Linked DNA regions of Homo sapiens: all the other regions are linked to region 1. The links come from fine-mapping of genetic effects on gene expression. A gene starts in region 1. Each other region holds a variant in brackets. All regions are shown on one strand. Distances are between the middles of the regions.

Region 1 (2,768 bases):
CTCATGAGATGAACTGGCATGTCTAAATGGTCCCCATCTGAGTGAGTGTGTGTGTGTGTGTGTGTGTGTGTGTGTGTGTGTGCACCCTCTGATGGGATGGTCAGGGCTGTCCAGGGCTGATTCCTGCCTTGCGCCCTAAGCTGCAGGGAGAGGCTCAAGCCACTGGAGATCCTGAATGGGAATAAGTGGGTTGGAGGAGGAATGAATGTATGGATGCAAATTATTTTCAAAAAAAATTCATAAAATATATGTTAATCACACAAATGCACAGCAATAGATGATGCTGTATGAAATTTCTCAGTGAGCCTGCTATATTTGTGGTGGTTTTGAACTGCATTGTGACAGGAGGTACTCCTTATAATTTTCCTTTTGCAAACATTTATTCCTTGATTGAATCCACCACCACTACAGCTGCCCTCACTCACTGATTCACCAAAAATTGGGTCCATGATTATCTTGTTTTTATTAATCTTTCTTAAATGCATGTGTAGCTGACATTTATTTCCATGTTTAATATTAGAAGTGTTTTAATCTTATTTAAAAGTTTGGTGATGTCTTTGTGACCAGAAATAGACTGTAGTCACTTAACCTTGTTTTTATCAATTAGTCGATGGTAAAATTGGTTTTAAAGTCACAGTTTCCATGAACCTATCTGTGACGTTTTAAGTGAGGACTTACTGTATATAGTGCTTCTTAGTGCTGAAACAGGCAGCGTGTCTGGAAATTTTGTTTGGTACCACAAGTAACACAAACAAACTTTCCCAGGCTCTTCCTTATTTAGTATGTTTTTATGTGGATGAATGTTATGGAAAACAAAAGTATTATAGGAAAATTAAAATGTCCTTTTTGTACATTTTTGGCAGATTGTATTCAGATTTAAAACATTTAAATATTTGGAATATACAAAATCTGCTTTTATATTGGACCACCCAGATTCATGACATGGGATGACAAACTATAAAAATAAGAAACCTGTAGGTGACATTGTACATTTTATGCAGTTGACTAACTGTTGGGTTTGGGTTTAAGAAGATCAGCAGGTAGAAAGAAAACAAAACACGTTAAAATTTAACATACCCAAAACTATGCAATAGATGTAATTATAAGAATGTAGTTTCCAGGAGAAAAATTCATATTCATTTTCTCTCTTTCTCTCTCCCTTTCTGTCTCTTCTCTTCCCCTTTCTCTAAATATATGGTTCAGAAAGGTACTTTTCAGAGCTGGAGGTTTATTAACAAAAAGTTTGTGCTTTCTTTTGTTTCCTCTTATAGGAATAATTCAGCAGAATGCAGACAGAAAAGTAGTAATTTAACTCATTTTAACTCTTTTTTGTCTATTCCATTCATAAATGTGGCAAGTCTCAAAACATTTATTTGAGAGAATCTAATCCTCTAGTAGTTGAATTCCCAACGCTCCTATTTTAGGACGTCATTCATGGCGTGGAGATTAAACCTTCATGTGTCCTTTACTATTTACAGAATTATTAAATGTAAGTTTTTCAATCATACTTATACCATTAACTGCTTGGATTTAATCTGTTAGTGCAAGATAACTTTGGCTCTCCCTTCCGTCCTCCTTTCCCTTATCTCGCCCCACGTGAGGACATTCTCCTGTGTGTGAAGCTGCTTTCCTTTCCTCGAAGGTGGGCCGAGCAAAGGAGAGTGACGCAAGAGTGGGCTGTGTCCTGGATGCTGCGAGCGCCTCTGCCTCCTTGAGAATGAGCCCATTAGCCGCACAAATTCGCAGCAGGCGGCTGGGGCGGCGGCTGGGGCAGCGGCTGCAGCAGCGGCGGACGCTCTGCATTACCCAGTCTTGCGTCCTCGGCAGGCGCCCGAAGCTGAGTGCGCATCCTCTACCGCACCCAAGCTTCGTCTGTCTCGTCAAGCTCTTCATGCTGCCCAACTAAAAGGAAAACATGGGCACAGGGGATTTTATCTGCATTTCCATGACTGGAGGGGCGCCCTGGGGGTTCAGATTGCAAGGTGGCAAGGAGCAGAAGCAGCCCTTACAAGTTGCAAAGGTAGGACCTGAACGAAGTGTCACGGCTCTGTGCTAGGAAGGAAGGAATGAAAGCAACCTGCTGATGGTGTTTTCAGGTTCTGATGCAGAAGTCTAAGTATTATTTGATTTTGCTGCGGATATTAAGATTTTTCTAGGAAGTGAGTTATTTTCTAAGAAACTTTGGAGAGTAATGGGCCACATCCTATGTAATTAACTTGCAATCGATGAGGGGTGGGTGGGAAGAATGCCATATTTATCAGCTGAGGAAAAGGCCTAGTTAACCATGTTCTTCTGACAACAAGCAAGACACTGGGGAGCGTTTCTTCCAGGCAATTTTAGAATGTTCAGTTGAGTTATTGTTTGATGTCACTTCACTTGGCTCTGGCAGAGGAGAAACGCTCAGTTCAGCATAACGACTTTGCTTGGCTATTTTGGGGACTCATATAGAGTGTTGGTAGTGACATTTATTATGCAGCATTCATGAAAAGGCCAATGTTGGGCAATAATTTTAAAAGTATGATGAAGTGTCATAAAATCTATTTAAAAGAATACCCTTTTAAGGATTTGACAAATAAATGCAAAAATCCAATAAATGCTGTATTCCTTCTTATGTACTCTTTTGGTCAAGATCTCAAAAATAAACTTAGAAGATAATCTAAATATATTATGAGTAACTAAGAGGTAACTTTGTAACACATTAATAACTATTTAAAATGCTTTAAGTTTTTATTGCCATTAGATTGCCTGCATTACTGGTTAGCCCAAGG
Region 2 (2,768 bases), 200 kb after region 1:
ACCTTTGTCAGATGCATATTTTGCAAAAATTTTCTCCCATTCTGTAGATTGTCTTTTTACTCTGTTGATAGTTTCTTTTGCTTTTCAGAAGCTCTTTAATTTAATTAGATCAAACTTGTCAATTTTTGCTTTTGTTGCAATTGCTTTTGGCATCTTCATCATGAAATCTTTGCCTGTGCCTATGTCCTGAAAAGTATTGCCTAGGTTGTCTTCCAGGGTTTTTATAGTATTAGGTTTTATGTTTAAGTCTTTAATCCACCTTGATTTAATTTTTGTATGTGGTATAAGGATGGGGTCCAGTTTCAATCTTCTACATATGGCTAGCTAGTTATCCCAGCACCATTTATTGAATGGGGAATCTTTTCCCCATTGCTTGTTTTTGTCAGGTTTGTCAAAGATCAGATAGGTGTAGGTGTGTGGCTTTATTGTTGTGTTCTCTATTCTGTTCCATTGGTCTATGTATCTCTGTTTTTGTACCTGTACCGTGCTGTTTTGGTTACTGTAGCCCTGTAGTATAGTTTGACCAGGTAGTGTGATATCTCCAGCTTTGTTCTTTTTGTTTAGGATTGCCTTGGCTATGTGGGCTCTTTTTTAGTTCCATATGAATCTTAAAATAATTTTTTCTAGTTCTGTGAAGAATCTCAATGGTAGTTTAACAGGAAGAGCATTGAATCTATAAATTGTTTTGTGCAATATGTCCATTTTAACACTATTGATTCTTCCTATCCATGAGCATGGAATGTTTTTCCATTTGTTTGTGTCATCTCTGAGTACTTTGAGTGGTGTTTTGTAGTTCTCCTTCTAGAGATTGTTCACCTTCCTAGTTAGCTGTATTCCTAGGTATTTTATTCTTTTTGTGGCTATAGTGAATGGGATTATGTTCCTGATTTGTCTCTTGGCTTGACTGTTGTTGGTGTATAGGAATGCTAGTGATTTTTGAGCATTGACTTTGTATTCTGAGACTTTGCTGAAGTTGTTTATCAATTTAAGGTTTTGGGCTGAAACTATGAGGTTTTCTACATATAGAATCCTATCATCTACAAACAGGGATAGTTTGACTTCCTCTCTTCTTATCTGGATGGACTTTATTTCTTTCTTTTGCCTGATTGCCCTGGCCAGGACTTCTATTACTGTGTTGAACAGGAGTGGTGAGTGAGGGCATCTTTGACTTGTGCCGGTTTTCAAGGGGAATACTTCCAGCTTTTGCCCATTCAGTATGATGTTGACTGTGGGTTTGTCATATATGGCTTATTATTTTGAGGTATGTTCTTCCAATACCTAGTTTATTGAGTTTTTTTTTAAACCATGAAGTGATGTTGAATTCTGTCAAAAGCCCTTTCTGCATCTATT[G/A]AGATAATCATCTAGTTTTTGTCATTAGTTCTGTTTATGTGATGAATCACATTTATTGATTCGCATATGTTGAACCAATCTTGCATCCCAGGGATAAAGCCTATTTGATTGTGGTAGATAAGCTTTTTAATGTACTGCTGGATTTGGTTTGCCAGTATTTTGTGTAAAATTTTTCCATCAATGTTCATCAAGGATATTGGCCTGAATTTTTCTTTTATCGTTGTATCTCTGCCAGGTTTTGGTATCAGGATGATGCTGGCCTCATACAATGAGTTAGGGAGGGGTCTCTCCTTCTCAATTTTTTGGAATAGTTTCAGTAGGCATGGTACCAGCTCTTCTTTGAGCATCTGGTAGAATTCAGCTATGAATCTGTCTGCTCCTGGGCTATTTTTAGTTGGTAGGCTATTTATTACTGCCTCAATTTCAGAACTTGTTATTAGTCTGTTCAGGGATTCAATTTCTTCCTGGTTCAGTCTTGGGAGGGTGTATGTGTCCAACGATTTATTCATTTTTTCTAGATTTTCTAGTGTATATGCATAGAGGTGTTCATAATATCCTCTGATGGTTGTTTGTATTCCTGTGGGGTCAGTGGTAATATCCCCTTTGTCATTTCTAATTGTGTTTATTTGAATCTTCTCTCTTTTTTTCCTTATTAGCCTAACTAGTGGTCTATCTTACTAATTTTTAAAAAATAAACAGCTTCTAGATGCATTGATCTTTTGAAAGACTTTTCATGTCTCTATCTCCTTCAGTTAAGCTCTGATTTGGGTTATTTCTTGTCTTCTGCTAGCTTTGTCAACCCCTGCTTTGATGGCCCTCCCTGGGTAATCTAATGAACAATTACCTAAGTTGCTTCCACTTACAGGGTGGTGACAGATAATTAATGTCCAAACCCAATTTCAAATATCTTTTCAGCTCCAGCCCTGAATCTGTTTACTCACTAGTCCTTATCACTTGAGGGATTCTCAGACACCTTAGATCTAACACTTTCAGATGAGACCCTTTCCTGCAGAGCCTGCTCCTTCTCCTATGGTCTCCACTGAGTGCCTGGTACCACCACGCAACCACCCAACTGCCTATGTCAGGACTAGAAGCATTACCCTAGTTTCTCCCTAACCCCGGCCCTTATTCAATGCATCAATCACCAATCTCTGTGAACTTCATCTTCTTAGTATCTCTCATCTCAGAATACCTGGCCCTGCTTGCCGCCATTGTCACAGCATTTGATCAGGCCCTTATCACCTTTCCCTGAGACAACTGCAATAGAGTCAAAAGGTCTCGCTGCCTGCATCTCCAGTCAGTTCTTCATATTGAGGCTGGAATAATATTATAAAAATGCACATTATATTATTCCCTTGCTTTAAAGTCATCAACGGCAACCACGGTTCACAGGCTAAAGTCCAAACTCTTGTGAAGCC
Region 3 (2,768 bases), 140 kb after region 1:
CTGCTAATCATTCAGTATGATTCTGTTCCGGGATGAAAATGAACTCACTATGGCCAAAATCTTGAGACAACAATGGAAATCTAGCATTATTCTTATAATCTAAATATTTACCCATCAAACTCAGTGTTTAAGGCCTTAGAATCCTTCCTTCATGTTATGAAGAGAAAATAAGTTTATAAAATACATAATTTACTAATACATAATTAAATTTATAAAATAAAAAAAATTACAAAGTAAGTAACTAATTGGTAGGATTCAAAGTGGAATCTCAATTGAAAATCAAGTCAAAAGCAATTATTATCATCACCACCACTACCACTATTTTAAATATCTGAATATTGTTTCCTGCAATAAATATTTCTGTCACTCATATCACTGTCATCTATCAGTAGAGGACAAGTGTTTTTACTTTTCCTGAACTATTGCCCAGAGATAGCTCAGTAAGACTATTTTAAAATAACTCCTTTAACATTCCATCTCTATTATCTTGAATGTTCTTAAAATAAGATTTTAAAAATTCTATAATTGTGACACATAAATTGTGGACTTGATGAATACCTATGTAGACTGATGGGAAATGAATGTTTTAAGGCATAAAGCTTTATTCGCTCATGCTTTTATGATATTTACTCATGTCTATTTATTTTACTTCAGCTGCTGATAAATGTTAATATTTATCTGGCCATTTGTCTGTATTGGTCTACAAGGCTGGCATGAATTGAAACTATTCTCTTCTCAGCTTCACAATTGATTGCTAACGTTATTCAAAGTGATTTAATCTACTTCCATCCCAAGGCCTTCCTAAATTAAAACTCTCTGACCTTTTGGTACCCTCAAATTCAGTTTAACAATGTATTTAACATTTTCTACATAATAATGATCTAATTTGCTAACATCATGCTTTTTTAATACGATATTATAATGTTGTATAAATACTGTATTACAGGGAAGCTTTTCCAATTACTTGCGTATAGAGAAAGGTGCATTTTGTTTAACTGTTAGTTTGTTTTCATTTTGTTTAGTTTTGTTTTGCCAAATGCAGTTGAAAGCAAAGGTAGGAGTAAGTATTTTGAGCATTGGTCGGAAATTGCACTACCACATAAATTCTAAGGTAAATTCCTTTGAGTAGAATCCAAGTAGAAGCTCACGCCCTTCAGCTGACGTGCCTGCATGAGTCATAACTGTCTTTTAAGGAAGGAGGAAAGGGGCAAAGATAATTATGCTGCTTCCAAAATTAAAAAAAATACAAATATAAAAAATGAAGGCATTTCCTACAGCTGTTCTGTGAATAATACCTCTAAAAACATTTACAGTTTAAATTAGAGTTTCAGAAAGAAGTTATTTAACTCTTAAACTGACATTGCTTCTTCTCAGAAACCCAAATTTGCACAGACAACTGGGAAGATCAAAATCAAAGAGCTGTGGTGTACAGCTCTAGGCTCCTTAGCTGAGAGATAAAGGAACAGTTTGACTTCAGATATCCTAAAAAGAAAATGCTCCAAGAAACAGATCCAAATAGAAGAAAGGGAGACATCTCAGATTATAAATACTCCATGACTTAATG[A/G]TTCATTGCAGCACGGAAAGGATTTCTCTTTACGCAAGAGTACTGGGCTGGGTCCACTTATTACGAAACACATGCTCACTGGGGCTTAAAAAACAGCTTCTATTTCATTCCTTTCAAGAAAGCACAGCCTCTAAAAGGACTAGTTGAGTTATCTGTAAGTTAAGATTGATCTGAAGGTGCTGGATATGTTTATGTGACTTCATAATGTCTAGACCAAAACTTAGTCAATAAGACATTGAAATGCTTTGTCACATTCTAGCAAACTCATTATAAGAGATACCCAGATTCCAAGTACTTACAGATAAACGGGATCCATGTAGTTTTTTAAAAATAAAAGCTGAATTTAGGATGGATTCAGGTTTCATAATCTTGTGTAAGAGTTTCTTTGTGCTTTTAAAAAAGTTTATTTGGTATCTCTTTAAGTAATAATATGAACATGTTGCCACCTTCTGTTTTCAAATATGTTGCAACTGACATTTAGAAGAAAATATTTTGACTATATCACATATTAGACATCACAAAAGTGTCAGGAAGTTCTTTGGCAGATGTAACATAGTCTGATTTAAGTGTCTGGAATGATTTTTCTGTGTGCAGACCATCCAGTGGAATAAGTGAGGCTTTGATATCTGAAAATGAAAACAAAAACCTCGAGCATCTCACACATGGGGGTTATGTGGAAAGTACCACCCTGCAGATTCGACCGGCCACAAAGACCCAGTGCACAGAATTCTTCCTCGCCCCTGTCAAGACTGAAGTTCCCCTAGCTGAGAACCAAAGAAGTGGTCCCGACTGTGCAGGCAGCTTGAAAGAAGAAACAGGCCCGAGCTACCAAAGGGCTCCCCAAATGCCTGACTCCCAAAGAGGACGCGTGGCAGAAGAGCTGATCTTAAGGGAGAAGGTAGAAGCGGTACAGCCTGGGCCTGTGGTTGAGCTGCAACTGTCCCTTTCACAGGAGAGACATAAGGGCGCTAGTGGCCCTTTAGTGGCTCTCCCGGGAGCTGAAAAATCTAAGTCTCCTGACCCAGACCCTAACTTGTCACATGACAGGATTGTCCACATAAATTCGATCCCTACTAATGAGAAAGCAGACCCTTTCCTGAGGTCCAGCAAGATAATCCAGATCTCCAGTGGCAGAGAGTTGAGAGTGATCCAGGAAAGTGAAGCAGGAGATGCGGGACTGCCCCGGGTGGAAGTGATCCTCGAC

Direction of the effects. Alleles are on the strand shown, and positions count from the first base shown. SD is a standard deviation of normalised expression in the study named. Not every link is listed here.
With allele A in place of G in region 3, the expression in fibroblasts of the gene that starts at base 1,733 in region 1 is higher (small effect, 0.21 SD a copy in GTEx).

What was found. PIP is the estimated chance that this variant, and not a neighbour inherited with it, causes the effect.
Region 2: its variant is fine-mapped to the expression of SYNPO2 in subcutaneous fat (GTEx, PIP 0.97).
Region 3: its variant is fine-mapped to the expression of SYNPO2 in fibroblasts (GTEx, PIP above 0.99). The same link has a PIP of 0.9 or more in monocytes, monocytes after LPS, monocytes after Pam3CSK4 and monocytes after R848.

The regions. Positions count from the first base shown.
Region 1 is chr4:118,887,122-118,889,889 of GRCh38, forward strand. It overlaps SYNPO2 (synaptopodin 2), which reads left to right and starts at 1,733. Exons shown (of 5, transcript NM_133477.3): 1 at 1,733-2,020. The coding sequence starts at 1,916.
Region 2 is chr4:119,089,279-119,092,046 of GRCh38, forward strand. No RefSeq gene overlaps it. Among named protein-coding and RNA genes, the nearest start is that of MYOZ2, 45 kb to the right of the region's middle. The variant G/A (reference allele first, on the strand shown) is at 1,351.
Region 3 is chr4:119,024,469-119,027,236 of GRCh38, forward strand. It overlaps SYNPO2 (synaptopodin 2), which reads left to right. Exons shown (of 5, transcript NM_133477.3): 3 at 2,159-2,768. Among named protein-coding and RNA genes, the nearest start is that of SYNPO2-AS1, 41 kb to the left of the region's middle. The variant A/G (reference allele first, on the strand shown) is at 1,565.